Linked DNA regions of Homo sapiens: all the other regions are linked to region 3. Evidence: fine-mapped expression QTL. A gene starts in region 3. Each other region holds a variant in brackets. All regions are shown on one strand. Distances are between the middles of the regions. Region 1 has its middle 92 kb from the start of RPA1. Region 2 overlaps RPA1 (replication protein A1). Region 3 holds the start of RTN4RL1 (reticulon 4 receptor like 1).

Evidence for each region. PIP is the estimated chance that this variant, and not a neighbour inherited with it, causes the effect.
Region 1: its variant is fine-mapped to the expression of RTN4RL1 in caudate (GTEx, PIP above 0.99). The same link has a PIP of 0.9 or more in cerebellar hemisphere and cerebellum.
Region 2: its variant is fine-mapped to the expression of RTN4RL1 in atrial appendage (GTEx, PIP above 0.99).

Annotation. Positions count from the first base shown.
Region 1 is chr17:1,917,767-1,925,942 of GRCh38, forward strand. No RefSeq gene overlaps it. Among named protein-coding and RNA genes, the nearest start is that of RPA1, 92 kb to the left of the region's middle. RefSeq lists a silencer at 4,347-4,529. The variant C/T (reference allele first, on the strand shown) is at 3,482.
Region 2 is chr17:1,884,519-1,892,694 of GRCh38, forward strand. RPA1 (replication protein A1) reads left to right here. Exons shown (of 17, transcript NM_002945.5): 14 at 4,157-4,333; 15 at 7,315-7,422. Among named protein-coding and RNA genes, the nearest start is that of RPA1, 59 kb to the left of the region's middle. The variant C/CTGA (reference allele first, on the strand shown) is at 4,570.
Region 3 is chr17:2,021,166-2,029,320 of GRCh38, forward strand. RTN4RL1 (reticulon 4 receptor like 1) reads right to left here and starts at 4,169. Exons shown (of 2, transcript NM_178568.4): 1 at 3,688-4,169. The coding sequence starts at 3,700. It overlaps LOC105371486 (a long non-coding RNA gene), which reads right to left and starts at 2,517. Exons shown (of 4, transcript XR_001752746.2): 1 at 2,431-2,517. RefSeq lists a silencer at 1,618-1,797 and enhancers at 3,016-3,561, 4,730-5,230.

The DNA of each region.
Region 1 (8,176 bases), 100 kb before region 3:
GGTTAGCCCTGTAGGGACAGTGGCAGTAGGCAGGCCCTGTAGGGACAGTGGCAGTAGGCGGGCCCTGTAGGGACAGTGGCAGTAGGCGGGCCCTGTAGGGACAGTGGCAGTAGGCAGTCAGCCCTGTAGGGACAGTGGCAGTAGGAGGTTAGCCCTGTAGGGACAGTGGCAGTAGGCAGGCCCTGTAGGGACAGTGGCAGTAGGCGGGCCCTGTAGAGACAGTGGCAGTAGGCAGTCAGCCCTGTAGGGACAGTGGCAGTAGGCAGTTAGCCCTGTAGGGACAGTGGCAGTAGGCAGGCCCTGTAGGGACAGTGGCAGTAGGCGGGCCCTGTAGGGACAGTGGCAGTAGGCAGGCCCTGTAGGGACAGTGGCAGTAGGCGGTTAGCCCTGTAGGGACAGTGGCAGTAGGAGGTTAGCCCTGTAGGGACAGTGGCAGTAGGCAGGCCCTGTAGGGACAGTGGCAGTAGGCGGGCCCTGTAGGGACAGTGGCAGTAGGAGGTTAGCCCTGTTGCAGAGAACCTGCCACCACCATCCCTATCTGGCGCTCTCCCTGCCCTTGGTTCTTTCCCTTCTTCTCTCTCTACCCCCTTCTCTTTTTTTTTCTCACTCAGCTTCTCTGCTGAATTCTGCATTGACATCAGCACTTCCAAAAACAACAACAAAGGAAAGTAGGTCACCGGCGTACCGGATCGGAGCTGGGCCCCGGTGCCAGCTGAGTCCGGGGCTGCGGCCCATCTCATGGAGAGCCGGGGGCGCCCCAAACTCTGCGCCACAGCCTCACACATGCAGCTTGGTTCCTGCCCTGTGTTCTTAGCGGGAAGGGGTAGGTATGCGTGCATGGCCTGTATGTTGGCATGCTGGCTCACGGACGGGGCAGCGTTGGGGTTTCTGCACCAAGGGGAACACCACGTACACTCCATACGTTCCTTCTGGTCCAGGTATGATAGAACTGGGGGTCAAGAAACCCAGGGTGCACACGCCTGCTCTTGGGACTGGGATCCAGCCTGCAAATGCACGTTGATTGACATACGTGATTGACATACGTGATTGACATACGTGTGTGCACCGGCCTGACAGCACTGCCTTCTCGGCCCTGTCCCTCCAGAGCTTCTTCACATGTAACATTTCCTCGGCTCTCTATGGTCACGGAGCTCCCAGTTCTACTTGAAAGATTACCCAACACGCTAATTGGGACTCCTGCTATGATTAAAAAGAAATTCCGGATTACAGCCACCATGCCACAGAGCTCAGGAAGAAAACAGCTCTTTATAAACCCAGCAGGAGCAGACTTTCGTTTATTTATTTTTTTTCTACCTTTGAAAGAAATTGCATCTTGAGGTTGTTTGGCCCACAATGAGTGACTCAAGTACACATAGTCACCAGGTAAGGCCCAAATTGTAAAGAGAGGGGCACTCGGGAAGAGATAAAATTACAGCCTCTTCCCCCGCCCCCGGCTTTTTAATACCTAACCGAGTTATTTCTGTAAGCCTAGATCCTGCCTCGGCCGGCGCCTTTGGCCCCCTGACCTGGGAGATAGATGCTACTGTTCCGTCTGGGTCAGCCTTCGCCCACGATAAAGCTTTTATGAGCAGCTGAGGGTGCTTCATTTCAATGAAGCTCCCTGAAGCAATTAGCTCTGGAGGTCCCCAGAGGTGGCTGCAGGGAGGGAGGATTTAAGCCGTGGTCAGTGAGAGGCAGGCACAGCTATGAGAGCAGCACTGCTGAATGATTTCACTTGCAGGGCTGAGCTCATCGCATTGATACTTTTAGAGCTCATTAGCTTGGGGAGGGGGGCTGGCACGCTGTACCGGGTCCCCTGGGCATCTGACCTCTCAAAGCAGCTCCTCTTGGACCAACAGGGAAGAAGTCCTCCTAATTCCTTTTCTACTTCCACCAAACACCCATCCCCTAGTTAAGGCTTTGAAACATTAACATGGAACCCAAACCCTCTTAAAAGGCAGCCGTTTGACTTTATGAAAATGAAACATCTCCCTAATGTCAGCTTCATTAAAAGATGTAAGAAAAGAACATCAATGTTTGCTGATAGAAGAATATAATTGTTGGCCAGGCGTGGTGGCTCACGCCTGTAATCCCAGCACTTTGGGAGGCCAAGGCGGGAGGATCACCTGAGGTTGGGAGTTCAAGGCCAGCCTGGCCAGCATGGTGAAACCCTGTCTGTACTGAAAATACAAAATTAGCTGGGCGCAGTGGCAGGAGCCTGTAATCCCAGCTACTCGGGAAGCTGAGGTAGAGAATCTCTTGAACCTGGAGGCAGAGGTTGTGGTGAGCCAGGATCATGCCATTGCACTCCAGCCTGGACAATAGAGCGAGACTCTGTATCAAAAAAAAAGAGAGAGAATATAATTGTCTTTAAGGGTAACTGGCTGGTTATTGCAGATAATTATCTGCAAATAATGGAAGGCAGGTGATAAGGAGGAAGGAGGCCATGCACACGGAGCTGGCACAGGTGAGCAGAGCCGTTGGCCCAAGTGGGGTTGGGTTGGGGCTGGGAACAGCATAAGGCAAGGGCCGCACTGCCAGACTCCTCCACAACCACCCTTCCCAGAGTTTTTGCATGCACAGAGCAGTAGGGTTGCAGAAAGAATTTGGAGGGCTTGCCTTGGGTTGCCAGCATTTTGTTTGGCCAATGAGAGACCCCAAGACACAGAAGCTGCTATGTACCAGTCCCGTTGGTTCAGAAAAGAAAGATCATTTTTACTTTTATTTTTTAGACAGAGTCTCACTCTGTCACCCAGGCTGGAGTGCAATGGTGCAATCTTGGCTCACTGCAAGCTCTGCCTCCCGGGTTCAAGCAATTCTTCTGCCTCAGCCTCCCGAGTAGCTGGGATTACAGGCACCCGCCACTAGGCCTGGCTAATTTTTTTTGTATTTTTCGTAGAGACGGGGCTTCACCATGTTGGCCAGGCTGGTCTCGAACGCCCAACCTCAGGTGATCCACCCACCTTGGCCTCCCAAAGTGCTGGGATTACAGGCGTGAGCCACTGCGCCCGGCCAAAGAAAGATCTTTTTAGAACACCCTTCTCCCTCCCCAAACCAAAGGAAAAAAAAAAATAAGGACATGATTTCAGAATAAAGGATTATCTTTAGATGGAATAAATTTGGCTTAGCAAAAAACTCAATACATTAATGTTTCGTTGCAAATCGGTAAAATCGCAATCACAGGCTCCCCTTGTCTCCAAACTAGCATTTGGAAGCCAGTGTTCCCAGGGAGCTTGGAGCCTGCCAGTTGCCACAGCTTTTAGGATGACAAGGAAGCAGATTGCCTGGGTTTAAAATTCCGTTGCTGGCGTCTTCTGGAACCAGCCGCTCCATCCTTTCCCCCACCACCCCCGCCCCGTTTTCCTTGTGTGACAGAGTGGAGGAGTAGACGATTGGGTCGAAACCAAATTGGTCAAAAGGACAAACTGGTCAAGAGCGACTATTTCCGCCGCAGCCTTGGCTGTTCCACAAGCCGGTTCTG[C/T]CAAGGACTCGTCATCCCCAGGCGGAGTGCCACCTACATGCCAGGTGGGAGGCGGCGTTGCGGAGGAGCCGCTGAGGGTGAAACGAAGGAGTCCGGGCCAGTTCTTAGCCTTTTTCAGGATCTGATGAAAAGGCCGTGCTGGCCTGCACCTGTGGGCCCAGCTACTCAGGAGGCTGAGGCAGGAGGTTCGCTTGAGCCCAGGAGTTTGAGACCAGCCTGGGCAACAGAGGAAGACCCTGTCCCAAAAATATAAATTAATTTATTTATTAATTAAAAGAAAAAAAAAAAGGCCAGGCGCGGTGGCTCATGCCTGTAATCCCAGCACTTTAGGAGGTCGAGGCGGGTGGATCACCTGAGGTCAGGAGTTTGAGACCAGCCTGGCCAACATGGTGAAAGCCTGCCTCTACTAAAAATACAAAAATTAGCCAAGCGTGGTGATGGGCGCCTGTAATCCCAGCTACTTGGGAGGCTGAGGCAGGAGAATCAGTTGAACCCGGGAGGTGGAGGCTGCAGTGAGCCGAGATGGTGCCATTGTACTCCAGCCTGGGCAACAGAGTGAGACTCCATCTGCTTTTGGCTGGGCGCAGTGGCTCACGCCTGTAATCTCAGCATTTTGGGAGGCCGAGGGGCGGATCACGAGGTCAGGAGATCGAGACCATCCTGGCTAACATGGTGAAACCCCGTCTCTACTAAAAACACAAAAAATTAGCTGGGTGTGGTAGTGGGCGCCTGTAGTCCCAGCTACTCAGGAGGCTGAGGCAGGAGACTCACTTGGACCCAGGAGGTGGAGGTTGCAGTGAGCCGAGATCGTGGCACTGCACTCCAGCCTGGGCAACAGAGCAAGACTGTGTCTCAAAAAAAAAAGAAAAAGAAAAGAAAAAGAAAAAGAAAGCTCTCTCTGGCCGGGCGCGGTGGCTCACAGCTGTAATCCCAGCACTTTGGGAGGCCGAGGCAGGTGGATCACGAGGTCAGGAGATGAGACCATCCTGGCTAACACGGTGAAACCCCGTCTCTACTAAAAATACAAAAAAATTAGCCAGGTGTGGTGGCGGGCGCCTGTAGTCCCAGCTACTCGGGAGGCTGAGTCAGGAGAATGGTGTGAACCCAGGAGGCAGAGCTTGCAGTGAGCCGAGATCCGGCCACTGCACACCAGCCTGGGCGACAGAGTGAAACTACCTCTCAAAAAAAAAAAACAGAAAGAGAAAGAAAGCTCTCTCTGGAAACCTGCACATTCCAGGGGCCCTGCATTGAATTCCAGGAGGTTTGTGAACACCTCCTTCATCTCCCCAAACTTGTTAGGGGGACTCTGGCCAATAATCCTGCATCTGGACAAACACTTCTCATTTTCCACTTCTCAGTTCAATGATATAATGACATTTAAAATCCTAAAATTTCATTCATAAATATCCAAGAAAAAAAGAAAAGGACTATTCCTTCCTTGTCCCTGTTGGAAGCTTTATTTTTTTCCTTATCAAAGTTGTTTGAATATGTGGAAACTTTACCCAAATAGGTAAAATTAATATCACTAACTGAAAAATATATATATATATATATATATATATATATATATATATATATATATATATATATTTGGAGCAGAGGTTTAATAGGCAAAAGAAAGAGAAAGGAGAAAGGTAAACAGCTCTCTCTCTAGTGAGAGAGAAGGAACTTCTGAGATGAAAAGGCCCAGTTTTTTTTTTTTTTTTGATGGAGACTTACTCTGTCGCCCAGGCTGGAGTGCAGTGGCTCGATCTCGGCTCACTGCAAGCTCTGCCTCCAGGGTTCAAGCCATTCTCCTGCCTCAGCCTCCCGATGAGCTGGGACTACAGGCGCCCGCCATCACGCCTGGCTCTAATTTTTGTATTTTTAGTAGAGACGGGGTTTCACCGTGTTAGCCAGGATGGTCTCCATCTCTTGACCTCGTGATCTGCCCGCCTCAGCCTCCCAACATGCTAGGATTACAGGCCTGAGCCACCGCACCCGGCCCAAAATATATTTTTTTTATGGTGAATTAACAGGGAGTTACGCAAAATATTACCATTGAGGGAAACTGGGTGAAAGGGCTCCAGGACCTCCCTGCTGCTTTCTTTTTTTCAGTTTCCTGTGAACCTGTAAGTATTTCCAAATAAAAAGAAAAAAACTAAGACACATTGTAAAATGTTGTAGTATCACCTAGGATAAATTGATATATGAATTAGTGGTTGCCCGTTCAGTTTTTAAGCCAATTTGCTATTAGACCATTTAAAATTGGAAACAAAATATTAAAATCCATGAAAATATTCCAAATAAGAAAAGTAGACATATTTGATTGAAATTAACATGAAAATTTTGAGACAATTTTTCAAATGAGCAAAAACAGTGAAAAGAAAATATAAATTCCAAGGACAGTCCCGGGATTCACAAAAGCTCTTGAGAAGAGGCCTAAAACTGTCACCAGACCCAGCTAATTTTTTTTTTTTTTTTTTTTTGAGACAGGGTCTAACTCAGTCACTCAGGCTGGAGTACAGCGGCACAATCACAGTTCACTGCACCCTTGAACCCCTGGGCTCAAGTGATTCTCCCACCTCAGCCTCCTGGGTACCTGGGACCACAGGCACATGCCACCGTGCCTGGCTAATTTATTTTTTATTTTATTTTATTATTATTATTTTTTTGAGACAGAGTTTCGCTTTTTGTTGACCAGGCTGGAATGCAATGACACGATCTTGGCTCACCGCAACCTCTGCCTCCCAGGTTCAAGCGATTCTCCTGCCTCAGCCTCCCGAGTAGCTGGGATGACAGGCATGCGCCACCACACCCGGCTGATTTTTTTTTATTTTTATTTTTATTTTTAGTAGAGACAGGGTTTCTCCATGTTGATCAGGCTGGTCTCGAACTCCTGACCTCACGTGATCCACCTGCCTCAGCCTCCCAAAGTGCTGGGATTACAGGCGTGAGCCATTGTGCCCAGCCTATTTTCTTTTTTTTTTTTGTAGCTGGACCGTCTATGTTGTTCAGGCTGGTCACAAACTTATGGACTCAAGTGATCCCCCTGCCTCAGCCTCCTAAAGTACTTGAATTACAGGCGTGAGCCACCGCACCCAGCCCTGTGTGTTGTTTTGTTTTGTTTTGTTTTGTTTTTGTAGCTGGGCCATCTATGTTGCTCAGGCTGGTCACAAACTTATGGGTTCAAGTGATCTTCCTGCCTCAGCTTCCTAAAGTACTTGAATTACAGGAGTGAGCCACCATGCCCAGCCTGCCCAGCTAATTAAAACAATTTTTTTTGTAGAGCCAGGCATGGTGGCTCTACAGCCAGTTAGGCTGCCCAGGCTGGTCTTAAACTCCTGGGCTTAAAACCAAGGCCAACATGGGAGGCTAAGGCAGGAGAATCACTTGAACCCAGGAGGCAGAGGTTGCAGTGAGCCAATATCATACCACTGCACTCCAGCCTGGGCAACACGGCGAGACTCCGTCTAAAAAAAAAAAAAAAAGGCCGGGCGCAGTGGCTCACGCCTGTAATCCCAGCACTTCAGGAGGCTGAGGCAGGCAGATCACGAGGTCAGGAGATCGAGACCATCCTGGCTAACATGGTGAAACCCTGTCTCTACTAAAAATACAAAAAATTAGCCGGGCGTGATGGCAGGCGCCTGTAGTTCCAGCTACTCGGGAGGCTGAGGCTGGAGAATTGCTCGAATCCGGGATTGCGCCATTGCACTCCAGCCTGGGCAACACAGAGAGACTCAGTCTCAAAAAAAAAAAAAAAGAAAAAGAAAAAAAGAAAAAAACAAATTGGCCAGTCGCGGTGGCTCATGCCTGTAATCCCAGCACTTTGGGAGGCTGAGGTGGGCAGATCACCTGAGGTCAGGAGTTCAAGATCAGCCTGGCCAACGTGGTGAAACCCCGTCTCTACCAAAAATGCGAAAAAAATTAGCCAGGCGTTGTGGCATGTGCCTGTAATCCCAGCTACTCTGGAGGCTGAGGCAGGAGAATCGCTTGAACCCAGGAGGCAGAGGTTGCAGTGAGCTGAGATCACGCCATTGCACTCCAGCCTGGGCAACAAGAGCAAGACTCTGTCTCAAAAAAAAAAAAATTTTTTTTTTGTAGAAATGGGTCTCGCTATGTTACCCAGGCTGTTCTTGAACTCCTGGTCTAAAGTGTCCTTCCTCCTTGGCCTCCCAAAGCATTGGGATTACAGGTGTCAGCCACCACACCCAGCCCAGAATGTACCTATTTTTTATTTATTTTTATTTTTAGTTTTTTTTTGAGACAGAGTTTCACTCTGTCGCCGAGGCTGGAGTGCAGTGGCGCGATCTTGGCTCACTGCAACCTCCACCCTCCGGGTTCAAACGATTCTCCTTCCTCAGCCTCCTGAGTAGCTGGGACTACAGGCGCCTGCCACTGCGCCCAGCTAATTTTTTGTATTTTTAGTAGAGAGGGGGTTTCACCATCTTGGCCTGGCTGGTCTTGAACTCCTGACCACGTGATCCACCCGCCTCAGCCTCCCAACGTGCTGGGATTACAGGCATGAACCACCACACCCAGCCATTTTTTGTATTTTTTGTAGAGACGGAGTCTTGCTATGTTGTCCAGGCTGGTCTTGAGCTCCTGACTCCAAGAGATCCTCCTGCCTTGGCCTCTCAAAGTGCTGGGATTCCAGGCGTCCACTATCTTCCTTTACTTTGTGGAAGGAATTCCCTGTGGCAGCCTCGTGGTACC
Region 2 (8,176 bases), 140 kb before region 3:
GCCTGTGTTCTGCCAGCAGTTTAGTATTTAGATCATTTATTTCTCCTTTACGCCTGCTCTTTTATTTTCATCATATACAGTGTAGGTTTCATTCCTCCTGTCTCATTTCACTGTATACCCTTATCCATCATTGTCAACAGCAGCTCTTAAGTGCTCTTATAGAACATCTCAAGAATTAAACACTGGACAGATCCTCGTTGTCCTGTCATGGGACACCCACTCTTTCGGTTCTCTGTAATCCCAGCTACCCAGGAGGCTGAGGCAGGTGGATTACATGAGCCCAGGAGTTCGACTGAGCAACATGGAAGACCCCTTCTCTTGAAACAAAAACTTTATTGCTGAAAAATGCTGACAATCATCTGAGTCGTAATCTTCTTGCTGGTGGGGGTTTGTTTCAGGGTTGATGGCTGAGCAGTCACGGCGATGGTTGCTGAACATCGGCGTGTCTTTGGCAGTTTCTTAAAATAAGACAGCAGTGAAGTGTGCCACATTGGTTGACTCTTCCTTTCACAAAAGCTTTCTCCATAGCCGGCGATGCTGTTTGACAGCATTTTACCCACAGGAGAACTTTTTCAAACTGGAGTCTCTCCCTCTCAGGTCCTGTCACTGCTTTATCAGCCAAGCTTATGCAAATTCTAAATCCTTTGTCGTCATTTCAACAATGCTCACAGCGTTCTCACCACAAGAGATTTCATCTCAAGAAAGCACTTTCCTTGCCCATCGTAAGGAGCAGCTCCTTATCCGTTCAAGTTTGATCGTGAGATTACAGCAGTTCAGGCCCATTTTCAGGCTCCATTTGTAATTCTAGTTCTCTCGTTATTTTCGTCACATCTACAGATCCCTCCTCCACCAAAGTCTTGAAGCCTCAGTGTCTACCTTGAGGGTTGGAATCAACTTGTTCCAAACTCCCGTTGATGTTGGGATTTTGATCTCCTCCCATGAATCATGAATGTTCCTTTTTTTTTTAACTTGAGACAGGGTCTCATTCTGTCACTCAGGCTGGAGTGCACTGGCTTGATCACAGCTCACTGCAGTCTCAACCTCCCCAGGCTCCCAAGCTGGGACTACAGGTGCTGCCACACCTGGCTAATTGTATTTTTTGTAGAGACTGAGTTGTGTCATGTTGCCCAGGCTGCTCTCAAACTCCTGGGCTCAAGGGATCTCCCTGCCTCAACCTCTCAAAGTGCCAGGAGTTACAGGTGTGAGCGACTGTGCCCAGCCAACTGTTCTTAATAGCATCTAGAATGGTGAATCCTTTTCAGGTTTTCAATTTACTTTCCCCAGATCCATCAGAGGAATCACTGTGGCAACTATCGCCTCATGAAATATGTCTCTTAGACTTAAAAAGTCAAAATTACTCCTTGATTTGCATGGGCTGCAGAATAGATGTTGTTATCAAGCATGAAAACAATATTAATCTCCTTGTTCTGTGCATCTCCATTGAGCCCTCGGGTGAACAGGTGCATTGTCAATATATTAATCTCCTTGTACTGTGTGTCTCCATTGAGCCCTTGGGTGAACAGGTGCATTGTCAATATATTAATCTCCTTGTACTGTGTGTCTCCATTGAGCTCTTGTGTGAACAGGTGCATTGTCAATATATTAATCTCCTCGTACTGTGTGTCTCCATTGAGCTCTCGGGTGAACAGGTGCATTGTCAATGAGCAGTCATATTTTTAAAGGAGTCTCTTTTTCTGAGTAGTAGGTCTCAACAGTGGGCTTAAAATATTCAATAAACTACACTATAAATAGATATGCTGTCATCCAAGCTTTGATATTCTATTTATAAAGCAGAGGCAAAGTAGATTTAGCATAGTTCTTATGAGCCCTAAGATTTTTGACATGGTCAATGAGCACTGGCTTCACCTTATAGTCCCCAGCTGCATTCGCGCCTAACAGGAGAGTCAGCCTTTCCTTTGAAGCTTTGAAGCCAGGCATTGATTTCTACTCTCTAGGACGAATGTTCTTGATGGCATCTTCTTCCAGAAGGCTATTCTGTCTACGTTGAAAATCTGTTGTTGAGTGCAGCCACCTTCATTGGTGGTCCTAGCTAGATCTTCTGGATAACTTGCTGCAGCTTCTCCATCAGCACTTGCTGCTTCACCTTGCACTTTTGTTATGGTGACGGCTTATTTCCTTAAACCTCATGAACCAACATCTGCTGGCTGCCATCTTTTCTTCTGCAGCTTTTTTTTTTTTTTTTTTTGAGACAGAGTCTCACTCTGTCACCCAGGCTGGAGTGCAGTGGTGCAATCACAGCTCACCTCAGCCTCTGGAGTAGCTGGGACTACAGGTGCACACCACCGTGCCCTGACAGATTTTTGTAGAGACTAGGTCTCACTATGTTGCCTGGCTGGTATCGAACTCCTTGGCTTAGGCAATCATGTTGCCTCTGCCTCCCAAAGTGCTGGGATTACAGGTGTGAGCCACTGCACCTGGCCTCTTCTGCAGCTTCCTGACCTCTCTCAGCCTTCACAGAATTGAAGAAAGGTGAGGCCTTGCTCTGGGTTAGGCTTTGGCTTAAGAGAATGTTGTGGCTTGCTTGATATTCTATCTAGACCACTACAGCTTACTCCATATCAGCAGTAAGGCTGTTTGCTTTCTTATTTGTGTATTCAAAGAAGAGAGACAGGAATACTTGATTGGAGGATCAGTCAGCATACATACAACATTCATCAATATAAGTTCCCCATCTTATATGGGTGTAGTTGGTGGCACCCCAGAACAACTACAATAGTGACGTTAAAGATCACTGTAGGCCAGGCGCGGTGGCTCATTCCTGTAATCCCAGCACTTTGGGAGGCTGAGGCAGGCGGATCACCTGAAGTCAGGAGATCGAGACCATCCTGACCAACGTGGTTAAAACCCCGTCTCTACTAAAAATACAAAAATTAGCTGGGCGTAGTGGTGCATGCCTGTAGTCCCAGCTTCTCGGGAGGCTGAGGCAGGAGAATCGTTTGACCCTGGGAGGCGGAGATTTCAGTGAGCTGAGATCATGCCACTGCACTCCAGCCTGGTGACAGAGCGAGACTCCGTCTCAGAAAAAAAAAAAAAATCACCATAACAGATATGATAATAATGAAAAAGGGCCAGGCATGGTGGCTTACTCCTATAATCCTAGCACTTCGGGAGGCCAAGGTGGGTGGATCACTTGAGGTTTGGAGTTCGAGACCAGCCTACCCAACATGGCAAAACCCCATCTCTACTAAAAAATACAAAAATTAGCCAGGCGTGGTAGTGCACGCCTGTAGTCCCAGCTACTTGGGTGGCTGAGGCAGGAGAATCACTTGAACCTGGGAGGTGGAGGCTGCAGTGATCAGAGATTACACCACTCACTGCACCCCAGCCTGGGCGACAGAGCGAGACTCTGTCTCAAAAAATACATATATAATGAAAAAGTTTGAAATCTTGCAAGAATTACTGTCTTTATGTGACACAGAGACATAAAGTGAGCACCTGCTATTGGGAAAATAGTGCATTTACTTGACCCAGGGGTGCCACAAGTCTTCAATCTGTAAAAAATGCCGTATCTGTCAAGTGCAGTAAAGCAAAGCACAATAAAGTGAGGTGTGTCTGTAGTTGCAGCAGAGACTGTGACCAAATGGCTGCTAAGGCCTGAAATATTTACTGTTTGGCTTTTTACAGAAGCAGCTTGCTGATCCCTGGCCTAAACAAGGAAAAGGTGAATCTAGGCCTAGACACGACTGCCGTGTTTTGAGCGCGGGAGGGATGGTTGATCGTTGCTGCACTGGGTGTTTGTGGTCCGCATTCTGTATTTCCTAGATCTGTGGCCTTTGGAGGGTCAGAGGATCGGGAGGAACAAATCTTTGTCTTTCATACAGTGTTCAAGCAAACAGGAAAACAATTTCACTTTTAATTAACTTAGTGTAATTTAGGATTAACTCTTTTATTGTGAAGGAATTATCTGCCTCAGAACTTGGCTTATTAGAACTTGGCTTATTACCTTCATGGGTTTTGTACTCGGCACATGTGATTTCTAAAACTACAGAATGAATGATTCCCTGTGATCATGTGTAATCTTGAGGATGTAGAAACACTTACCACCTAAACGTAAGGGCAGGCTTTGAGCTGCCTCTCGGTCCGATCCTGGGCGGGCTCGCGACTCCGTGCCTCATGCTGTTCTTTTCTCCCGAAGCCGGACTACTTTAGTTCTGTGGCCACAGTGGTGTATCTTCGCAAAGAGAACTGCATGTACCAAGCCTGCCCGACTCAGGACTGCAATAAGAAAGTGATTGATCAACAGAATGGATTGTACCGCTGTGAGAAGTGCGACACCGAATTTCCCAATTTCAAGTACCGCATGATCCTGTCAGTAAGTAGCCTCGGTAGATGAGAACCACGGTTGTGTTCACGGAGGCCCTCCCGTGTGCCAGGCACTGTGGTCACAACAGTAGAGACAAAGCATTCCTGGTAGGAAGCCCGCAGATGAGTAGGTGTGGAAGAGCTTATCCATCCGCTTTTTCATGCCAGAAAGTGGTGTTGAGATACCCCAGCTGATTCAGTCTTTCATGCACGTCATACAGCCATAGCGTCAGTGACACTTGCCTG[C/CTGA]TAACTGCTATGAAGATAAATTAATTTGAAAACGGCATTTATAGACAGCACTAATTGTACTTACACAGCCAATGCCCGTATTTAGTCACTTTCATGTGGATAATCTATTCTCTAGCTTTAGTATAGCTGACTTCAGAGGAATGTGACGGTGTGCTGATGTGAGATTGTTGCTTTTTTGCATTTTAAGAATTGTTTCTTTCTGTTTTAAAAACCTTTTTAAAAAAGTTGTAAAGTTGGGTTTAAAAAAATTTTTTTTTTTTTTTAAGAAACAGGGGTCTCACTCTGTTGCCCAGAATAGAGTGCAATGGTATCATCACAGCTCATGGTGGCCCCAACCTCCCGGGCTTAAGCAGTCCTTCCACCTTGGCCTCCCAAGTAGCTGCAACTACAGCTGTGCACCACCACACCCAGCTAATTTTTAAAATTATTTTATTGTAGAGACAGGGTCTCGCTCTGCTGTTCAGGTTGGTCTCAAGTTCCTGGCCTCATGTCATCCTCCCACCTCAGCCTTCCAAAGTGCTGGCATTACAAGCCTGAGCCACTGCACCCGGCCTTAAGATTTTTATTTTGTTTTGTTTTGTTTTCAATGATAGAACTAGGCGATAATAGCAGTTTAAGAAAACAGTTTAAGGCCGGGCACAGTGGCTCACTTTTGTAATCCCAGCACTTTGGGAGGCCGAGGCGGGTGCGTCACCTGAGATCAGGAGTTTGAGACCAGCCTGGCCAACATGGTGAAACCCTGTCTCTACTAAAAATACAAAAATTAGCCGGGCGTGGTGGCGGGTGCCTGTAGTCCCAGCTACTCGGGAGGCTGAGGCAGGAGAATCGCTTGAACCCGGGAGGCAGAGGTTGCAGTGAGCCGAGATCACACCACTGCACTCCAGCCCGGGCGACAAGAGCAAAACTCCATCTCAAGAAAAGAGAAAAAGAAAACAGTTTCACATTTTTCCAAAGGATGATTTGGCAGTAATATATCAGAAGCCTGAAAAATGTTCATATTGGCCAGGCGCAGTGACTTGTGCCTGTAACCCCAGCACTTTGGAAGGCTGAGGCAGGATGATTGCTTGAGGCTGGGAGTTCGATATCAGCCTGGGCAACATGGCAAGACCCTGTCTCTACAAAAAGTAAAATTAGCTGGCTGTGGTGGTATGCACTTGTCCCAGCTACTCATGAGGCTGAGGTAGGAGGATCGCTTGAGCCCGAGAGGTCAAGGCTGCAGTGAGCCATGATCGTGGCACTGCACTCCAGCCTGGGTGACAGAGTCAGACCCTGTCTTTAAAAAATAAATAAATAGGCCGGGCACGGTGGCTCACGCCTGTAATCCCAGCACTTTGGGAGGCTGAGGCAGGCGGATCACGAGGTCAGGAGATCGAGATCATCTTGGCTAACACAGTGAAACCCTGTCTCTACTAAAAGTACAAAAAAATTAGCCAGGCGTGGTGGCGGGCACCTGCAGTCCCAGCTACTAGGGAGGCTGAGGCCGGGGAATGGCATGAACCCGGGAGGTGGAGTTTGCAGTGAGCCACGATCGCGCCACTGCATTCCAGCCTGGGTGACAGAGCAAGACTCCATCTCAATAAATAAATAAATTAAATTAATAAATGATAAATAAAATGAAATGTTAGCTTAGCAGGACAGTTCTACGTTTAGGCTCATTTTTTGTAAACTATAAACTTTTCATTGAACTAAGATGAAGAAAATTTGTTTTAGTTTGTGGAAACATCAGCCTTTCTGTTAAACTCCACAGCGCAATCTCCCGCACACTTGTTTGATTTGATATTTATCACACGTGTGCGTCATTGTAGTTCTTGCCCTGTGTGATGAGATGCTCTTTGCTTCTTAGAAGGATAGCGTGGGTTAAAGGAAGTGTGAGCCCAGGGTGTGATACCGTTGCTGTGTATTGAGAGCGCTTTTCACTTTTAACTGGTTTCGTCACCTTATTTTTCGTCATAACATTCTCTCTATTAAAAGCCTTGTACCCATGCAAAATGAAGATGTAAAATCGTCAAAATGATGCCTTAAAGAAAAACCACTCGTGTTTCTACAAAGGCTTTTACTTCAGCAAGTGGATTCTTTGAGATCTGCTTTCTTCCTTGACTTTGCCCTGTTTAATGTTACACCACAGCCCAGTGGGAGACATTTGATTGCTCATTTCCTTTGCCAGGTCAATTTGGTGACTGACAGAGGCTCACGGGCAGGCTCTTCAGTTGTCTGGGTGCCCAGCAGTGACAGAGCCGTCTCATGGAACTCCTCCTAGGAACTACAGAGTGGGCAATTGAAAATGCAGAGAACTCCCCCGATTCACTCAAAACCCTTCATCCAAAGCCAGCTGCACCTCGACAGGAACTAATCTGATGGGCCTCTCTCTGTCACCCAGGCTGGAGTGCAGTGGCTCGATCTCAGCTCGCTGCAACCTCCGCCTCCCGGGTTCAAGTGATTCTCCCGCCTCAGCCTCCTGAGTAGCTGGGATTACAGGCACCCGCCACCATGCCTGGCTAATTTTTGTATTTTTCGTAGAGACGGAGTTTCACCATGTTGGCCAGGCTGGTTTCAAACTCCTGGCCTCAAGTGTTCCACCCGCCTTGGCCTCCCAAAGTGCTGGGATGACAGGCATGAGCCCACTGCACCTGGCCCTCTCTGGAAATTATTTTAATAAGTGGAAAAAGAACATTAACCTCTCCCCATCTTCTCAGTGTGTCTTTTTATTATTTCTTTGCTGAAATAATGTAGAATTGTGTTTTTTAGGTAAATATTGCAGATTTTCAAGAGAATCAGTGGGTGACTTGTTTCCAGGAGTCTGCTGAAGCTATCCTTGGACAAAATGCTGCTTATCTTGGGGAATTAAAAGACAAGGTCAGCCACATATTTTATTATAACTTCTATAACTTTTAATGGTTCTCATTCTATAACACTGACCCCACACATTTTTTTTTTTTTGAGATGGAGTCTTGCCCTGTTTCCTAGGCTGGAGTGCAGTGGCGCGATCTCAGCTCACCGCAGTCTCCGCCTCCCGGGTTCAAGTGATTCTCCTGCCCCAGCCTCCTGAGTAGCTGGGATGACAGGCACCCGCCACGATGCCCGGCTAGTTTTTGTATTTTTAGTAGAGACGGGGTTTTACCATGTTGGCCAGGCTGGTCTCGAACTCCTGACCTCATGATCTGCCCGCTTCAGCCACCCGAAATGCTGGGATTACAGGTGTGAGCCACCACACCTTGCCCAACACTGGCCCTCTTTTTGCTGTTTAATATTTTTTAGTTTGTTTCTTTTTGGTATTGTTTGTATACAGTTTCTCAGCCTGATAATTATTTAAGAGCTCATCTGATGTTATCTAATCTTGTCCATTTGGGATGTGCTTAACAGTGAAATAATGTATATAAAAGTACTTTAAAACCAAAGCACTTTCTAAATCGAAGCCACCCGTTTCTCCTGTTCCTATTAGCACATCAGAGCTAGTGTGCCTGAGATGACTTAGGTCGGGAGGTGTCCCTGAAACAACCTGAATTATTACAGGCATGCTTTTTTAACATAGTAAATACCTTCCAGAAAAGTTGAGTCAGATCCTGGTTAAAATGCACGTATGTCAAGTTCCTGGGTCTGTCCTATAAAA
Region 3 (8,155 bases):
ATGCAAGGCAGTCCCCCTCAGTCCTCCCAAAATGTCATGCCAGGGGACAGCTTTACTAGGACAACCAGGAATCAGAGAGATGATCCTTATGGCCCAAGGTGTGCTCCGCCTTCCTCCTCCTCTGGGGCTTCATACCACTGCACCCCTCACTGCATAGGGCACCCCATTATCAAGACCATGAGCCCTGCCCTTTGCAGAAAGATGAGGGGTTTTTTCTCTTCCCTCCTTCCCACAGGATCTAGGGAGGGCTACCCTTTCTTCATCTTTCAAACCCTTTTCAGAATCATAATTAAATTATTACACTCCCTCAGGTCCAGGACCCCACATAGGGCTCTGCATATTATAGGCAAGAAAACAGCAAGAACTATTTAAACACATCCTATACCTTTTTTTTTTTTTTTTTTTTTGAGACAGAGTCTCGCATCTTCTCCTGGGCTGGAGTGCAGTGGTGCGATCTTGGCTCACTGTAACCTCCGCCTCCCGGGTTCAAGCAATTCTCCTGCCTCAACTTCCCAAGGAGCTGGGATTACAGGCATGAACCAGCACGCCCGGCTAATTTTTGTATTTTTAGTAGAGACGGGGTTTCACCATGTTGGCCAGGCTGGTCTCGAACTCCTGACCTCCGGTGATCCTCCCAACTCGGCCTCCCAAAGTGCTGGGATTACAGGTGTGAGCCACTGTGCCCGGTCTTTTTTTTTTTTTTTTTTTTTTTAAATAGGGTCTGGCTTTGTCCCCCAGGCTGGAGGGCAGTTGTACAATCTCGGCCCACTGCAGCCCCCACCTCTCAGACTCAAGTGATCCTCCCACCTCAGCCTCTCAAGTAGCTGGGACCACCAGTGTATGCCACTGCAAATTTTTTAAAATTTTGGCCGGGTGCAGTGACTCACACCTGTAATCCCAGCACTTCAGGAGGCCGAGGTGGGCAGATCACTTGAGACCAGGAGTTTGAGACCAGCCTGGCCAACATGGCAAAACCCCATCTCTACTAAAAATACAAAAAATGAGTCAAGCATGGTGGCGTGCACCTGTAGTCCTAGCTACTTGGGAGGCTGAGGCAGGAGAATTGCTTGAATCTGGGAGGCAGAGGTTGCAGTTAGCTGAGATTGCACCACTGCACTCCAGCCTGGGCAACAGAGTGAAACTCTGTCTCAAAAAAAATTTTTTTTTGTAGAGACGAAGTCCCACTCTGTTGCCCGAGCTGGCCTCGAACTCCTGGTCTCAAGTGATCCTCCTACCTCGGCCTCCCAAAATGCTGGGATTACAGCCATGAGCCACCACACCTGGCCTCCTGTATCATTTTCGCTTGGAAACTTTGGGAAGAATTCTAGAAGCAGACACTTCAATGGCCACCTCCCTGGGCATTAGCCTCAGGCATGCTTTTGGCTTTGGGCGCCTACCTAGAATCCATACAGAGAATCTGAGTGTCCTATACAGGTGTGCAGAAGAAACTAATCCAAAAGATCAGGATCTGGGGCCAAGAGAGAAAACTGCCTGCCCAGGAAAGAACCAACACAAGTCACCCGTCCACACGATGCCCTAGGGGCGGTCTCCAGGTCACCCAGGCTGAGCCCAGCCCAGTGAAGGGCTTCTCTGCTCTGCTTCCTTTGGGCCAATCCAGGTGGAAACCTATCGGTGGAACCTCTTCAGCCAACCAGGCTGTGCAGGAAGGAAGAAACAGCCCGAGTGGCAAACACACGTGACTGCTAAGCCTCCGGTGGCCGCCTCTTGTGCAGGGTAAGGAGCCTCCCCCCGGGGAGCGGCCCCCACAGTGCACTGTGCTCATCCACAGCTGGGCCTCTGGCTAGCCAGGGTGGGAGAGAAAGGCTCTTGGAGGCTGCTGGAGCCTCCTTGGGCACCTAAACCATATAAATAAAGTGTGTGGGCTGCTTGGTGGCTCATTTTTAACTATAAACTGCCAAAAGACAAAAGACCAAAAGGGAAATGAGATGTCAGTTCCTCTCCATTATCCCTATCACAGACCTGCAGCCCAGACATGGCGGCCTCTCAGAGCTGTCTGGGAAGCCTTCTCGACCGGGGCAAGTTTGCACGCTCCAGGCCCAAGTTTCTCAGACCCGGGCTTCTGCTCAGCTCTGTAAAAAGCACCTTCTCTGTGCAAAGACACTTTGGCCAGCACTGCTCGGTTGCTGAAAGGACTTTTTGTCCCTTTCTGCAGGGAAAAGGAGAACCTGGGGTGTGTCTGCGAAGCGGTTTCTCCAACTAGCCCCAGAAACTCTTCCATACCACAGCGAAGGCAGCCGGCGTTTCCCCCTGAACTGCACCGACCCACGTGGAGGGCACAAGTCACACACAAGTTTGTTACTATTCCAGGACGACGGGGCAACTCAGCTTCCTCGGTCGGCCCAAGCTAGGACCACCACACGGCCTTCACTGCCCCACCAAAGGCGTGGTTCCTCCACCCACCTGCCTGACCTGCTTATATCTGGGTCTTCGCCATCACCTCCACATCTGCTTCTCTCCGCCCATCTTAGGGCTTCGCTTCCCCCCACCTCCCCAACCTCCCCCCCCTCCACCCCCTCCCCGTGCGCGTTTTCTCCTTCCCCATCCTGCTGTGAGGTCAGAATCCTGTGCTTACGACACCTCGGTCTGTTGCCATGGAAACAGGGGCGGATTAAGGCTGGAGCGTGGAGCGCAGGGATCAGGCCCCTCGGCTACCTGAGCTCCCGCCTCAGCCGCTCCCGCAGGGCCGGGGCAGCCAGCCGCAGGCGCCGCGGCTTCTCAGCCTCCTGGCCGGGCCAGGCGCGGGGGGGATCCCGGCGGGGCGCCACAGCCTGCTCGGGCCTGGGAGGGGAGAGGCAGACGCAGAGGCTGGAACAGCTGGTGGCGGGGCCCGTGGGCTCCCGGCGTGATCACCTGCCCTCCCAGGGCCCGGGGGACGGCGCCCCGCGTGGCAACCACGTGGGGGCGCGGCGGGACTTCCCCGGTGCCCGCACCAACTTTGCCGCGCTCCGTACCGGGCCGGGCTGCTGGGGCGTCTAGCTACGGTGGTCGCGAAGCCAGCTGTCCTCAAGTTGAGCTGTGCACCGGTCGCGCACACTGGCGGCACGGCTTTCGCGTCCCTCCGCTCCCAGCATAATGAAAGTTTGAGGAACTGGACATCAGGCGCTGGCCGCTCCCCACCCTCAGCCGCTGGGTGCCCAGAGCCCATCCCTAGCGATCAGAGCAGAACTGCAGAGAAGACGTCCGCGTCCGGGCCCCGTCTGGGGAGCTAGGGCGCGCGGGGAGCGCCCGGGCCGCGCGGTCACTGACCGCTGGCTGCACGGGGGCGCCGTGCGGACTCGGCCTCCACAAAGCGGCAGAAGCAAGGGCGTGTGCCCGCGCAGGGAATGGAGGCTGCAAGTGCAAAACTTTATCCCAGCAAAGCAAAGGTCCCAGGAGGCCGGCTCCCCTTCCACCACCGGCCGCTCACTCTGGTCTCCGACTGACCCCTCCGGGCCGGATCTCTAGGCCTGGCCACTCGATCCATGGAGAAAACCCCGTGTCTCACAACTGGCCGCTGACGGGAGCTGAGCCCCAGCAGCAGCCCCTCGGCGGGTGCGCCCGGCAAAACCCACCAGCCCGCCGGGGGCTACTTCCCAGACCGGGAGCCCCGGCGCCGGGCGGCGCCCGGGCTCGCGGCTCTTTCCGGAGCGCATTCAACTTCAACTTGCCCCTGCGGCTCCAACTCACCTTTGCGAAGCATGTTGGCCACGGGGCCGCCGCTCCGAGGTCGGCCTAGGCGCACTCCCTCCCGGGGTCCAGATTCAAATCCCTGGGCGCCAGCTGCAGCTAATCCGAGCGCGTCGAGGCGGGGGCAAGCCGGGGATCCGCTCGTGCCCGGTGGCCCGGCCCCGCAGGGGCATGGTGAGCTCCAGCCCCGCGCCGAGGGCACCGGCGCCCGCAAGCAACCGTGGTGCTGCCCGGCAGCCCCGCGCGCTTGCTCAGCCCCGGGGCGAGCGGCTTGCTCCGCGGAGCCGGCGGCCTGCTTCTGCCACCCGGAGCACTTCGCAGGCGGTTTTGAGGGGGGACGCCGCCCCCTGGCCGGCCGGCCGCAGCCCCCTCCTCTCCGCCCCCTCGGACCACCGCCGCCGCGGCTGCAGCAAAAGGGCGCTCGCACGCACCGCCGAGCTCCGGGGAAAGCGCCCGGCGCGCGTTTGCAGGACCGAGCGATCGGCGGAGCGGGGCGCCTCCCTTCCTCCCCCCGGCTTCCCCCTCCTCTCCTCCTCCCTCCCTCCCTTGCTCTCTAGCTCCCTCCCTCTCGCTCCGCTCCCCGCCCCCGCTCACGGAGCGCCTCCCATACAAAATTTATGAAAGTGCTCTCAGCTCGCAGTGCCGAGCGCCGTCCTATTCCCAAGGCAGCAGCGCTCAGCCGCGCGGCGCCGCCTCCCAAGGTGTTTTCACTGCGCCCGCCCCCGGGGAAGATGCTCGGCCCGCGTCCGTCCAGGCACCTGCCCCCAGTCCCCAAGCCGGTCCTCGGACCACTCCACGCCCCTCCCCGGCCCCGCAGGCCTCCTGGAGCCCGAACCCGCAGCCCAGCCCCCGCCCGCTCGCCCTTCGCGGCTGGAGGTCATCGGGAGACGCGGCTGGGACGCGAGGACCGCCGCCCAGAGTACGGATCGCGAGTCCGCTCCCTGCCCCGTCTCCTCCCTGGCCAGCGCCCCTTCTCCCAGTCTCGACGGCTCTTCCCCGCACTGAACAGCTCCAGCGAACCCGGCTGCCCCGCACCCCGAGTCCCAGGACACTGTTCTTTCGTGGGGAGAGGAGGGGAGCAAGCATTCGGAAAGGGCCAGCTGCAAATTCCAGGGAGAAGGAAGGACCCGTGCGGGTTCGGGTGGGCCGTCTCCGCCTGGGTGGGGTGGCGGCGGGGGGTCTCTGATCTCCCTTGGTCCACACAGACCCCGCCGGGGGGTTCGCGGAAAATGGAGGAGGCGCCGCTTGGAAAGCGGGTCCCGCAGGGGCCTGTTGAGCTGAGGGAAGAGAAGGTTCGGGCCAGGCGAGATCCTGGGTGGAGGCGGCACCCCCTGCTGGCCTGGGATCAGAGGGATTCGGAGAGAAGAAAAAGCGGATGGACCAAGGCTGTCATTCAACACACATTCACCGAAGGCTCAGCATGTGTGGGGCACTACTGTTCCTGAAAATTCAGCAGACGAAAAAGACTTGTCTTTGCCCTGTCCTCAAGGAGTTTCCATTTTAATAGGGGCCAAATGAGGAAAGTCCAGAGAAGATGGGAAGATTGTGCTTCGAAGAAAAACAAGCAGAGTATTGTTCTGGAGCTGACACGGGGGTAGAGGTGGCAGTCAAGGAAAGCTGCTCTGAGCAGGTGACATCCAAGCAGAAATCCAACTGAATCCCTCCTTGTAGGAAAAGGTGACATGATAGGAAGGTCAAAAAGAAGGTCAGGGCCGGGCGCGGTGGCTCACGCCTGTAATCCTAGCACTTTGGGAGGCGGAGGCAGGCAGATCACGAGGTCAGGAGTTCGAGACCACCCTGGCCCGCATGGTGAAACCCGGTCTCTAATAAAAATACAAAAATTAGCCGGGCATGGTGGCAGGCGCCTGTAATCCCAGGTACTCGGGAGGCTGAGGCAGGAGACTCGCTTGAACCCGGGAGGCGGAGGTTGCAGTGAGCCGAGATCGCGCCACTGCACTCCAGCCTGGGTGACAGAGTGAGACTCTGTCTCAAAAAAAAAAAAAAAAAAAGGGCCAGGCTGGGCGCGGTGGCTCACACCTGTAATCCCAGCACTTTGGGAGGCTGAGCAGATCACTTGAGGTCAGGAGTTCGAGACCAGCCTGGCCAAGGTGAAACCCCGTCTCTATTAAAAATACAAAAATTAGCCGAGCGTGGTGGTGTGCGCCTGTAATCCCAGCTACTTGGGAGGCTACGGGAGAATCTCTTGAACACAGGAGATGGAGATTGCAATGAGCCGAGATCACACCACTGCACTCCTGCCTGGGTGACAGAGCGAGACTGTCTCAAAAAAACAAAACAAACAAAAAAAAAGAAGGCCAGTCTGACGTATTCACTCACACCTGCATTTGGTGGCACTGAAGCTTCAGATTTGAGCTAAGGCTCTGGGCTTGGACTTCCAGAAGCTTCAGGTGTCGTGGGAAAAGAAAGACCCGCAAACCATCTTAGAGTGTGACTGACAGAAGTCACAAAGACTGCGAAAGGGCTCTGCTAGCTCTGCCAGGGGCTACCAGATAATCAGGAAACAGTCACAGAAGAGGTGCCCTTGGAGTTAGGTCTTGAAGGCTGAGTTCACCACACTAAGAAGGGGGAAGGGCATTCCACGTAGATGCTTGAAGGTGAGAAGTAACCTTGTTCTGAAGATAGATAAGATTGGTCCTTCCTGAGGACCATGGGCTCACACCTATAATCTCACCACTTTGGAAGGCTGGGGTGGGAGGATTGCTTGAGGCCAGGAGTTTGAGACCAGCCTGGGCAACAGTGTGAGACTCCATCTCTATTTCAAAAAAATGTTTAAAGATAAAAAAAGATGGATGGCTGCTACTCTGGGCACACTGCCCATGGCCACAGGAGCAGTTAAACACGAACAAAAAAAGATTGGTCCCTCTTGGCGTAGAACAGAAGGTGAGGTATTCCTTCTCTTAGCCACCAGCTACAAGGCAGTGCTCACCCCACTGCCTGCCTTAGCCCTGACACTGGGAGCCTGAGAGGTCCTCTGTAAGTACACCGAGGCCCAGAGAGGATGAACAACTTGCTCAACGTCACATCACAGATCAGCGATAAAGTGTGGGCCTGACTCAGGGCCTGAATGTGGGATAATCCTCCTTCCACCTCTCCAAGCCGCCTCCCCATGACCCCCTAGCCCACAAACTCTAGCGTCTTAGGAAAAGTTGGCTGGGGCTGGGCGTGAGTGTGAGAAGCAGAGTTATTTCAGGCCTCAGGAGGGTTGGGTGCTGCCTTGGAGTCCAGCCAGGGAGTGGGGGCGAGTGAAGGCGGGTGTTGTGGTGTACTGTGGGGGTGCACTGTGCCCGCCTTCTTGTCAGGCAGTAATTACTCAGACTGCTGAGTAACTCAGGCAGGGAGACCCCCACAGACAGATGGAGGTGCCCTCAGCCCAAGCTGAATGGCAGCCCCCAATGTCCTGCACCACGGAGTCTTGGGGAAGCATTCTCACATCTGTTCTTCATGTCCAGTTCTCCTAGGCATCATCCGGCTTCCTAATGGGGGCCAGAGCAGCTCATTAGGCACAGCGGGTGCGGGGCAATGTTACTAGAGGGATGGGACTTTTGCCATCAAACAGGCCCCACCTCTGATGAGGGAAAGGTCCCAAGGGATATGGCGCCTGCTAGGGAGAAGCCATTGCTCAGTTGGAGCCAGTCCTTTCCCCTTGAAACTCCATGCTGCAGTCACAGCTAAGGCTGTCCACAGGCTGGGCAGCAGTGTCCTGAGAGAGGAGGGGCTGAGCTCCCAGAATTCAGATCTTGCACCCTGGGGATCCAGAGAAGCTGGGGGGAGATGGGAAGGTCTAGTCCGGACGCTTATCGAGTTGAGGGGAGTGTTCCTGGGACCCACATTGGTCACTTTTCTGTCTAGAGCTACCTGTCCTAAGAGTGCCGGTGGCCTGGGGGGCACAGCACTGACCCTTGGTGATGGTCCCTCAGCTGCTCACTCCCTGCCTGTCCAGCCATTCCTCCTCTCTGGGCAGCCTCCCAGGCAGGGCCTGTCTCTGGCTGCTTGTTTTTACTTCTCCCTGCACCTTAATTAGGGGTTTCCAAGCAGGGAGGGCCTCTGGGGGAGCCCGAGGACACAGAGCTGACTTAAAGGGCCAGCTGTGATCACAGCACCACCGCAGAGAGAGGAGGAGGATGCCAGGGGGCTGGGTAGACCGTCAGACCTGGAAGACCATTGTTCCACGGGACAGACTGCTGAGGGCCAGTCCTGCAGGTACTTTGCTCTTCCACAGGTCAAAGCCGTCTCACTGGCTGTCTTCTCTTTGGGGTCTCTGGGGCTCTGGCCAGTGATCAGGAGAAAGACCAGCCCTGAGGGGCAGGGCAAAGGTTGGCCAGGGTCCAGAAGGGTTAGACATCACAGTCCTCCACTGCCCACCTTCCCAGGAAAGCACCCTCAGGCTGTGGGCCTTCCCCAGAGGGGCAGTTTCTACAGGGTCTACGCAGTGGATTCTAAAGGTGAT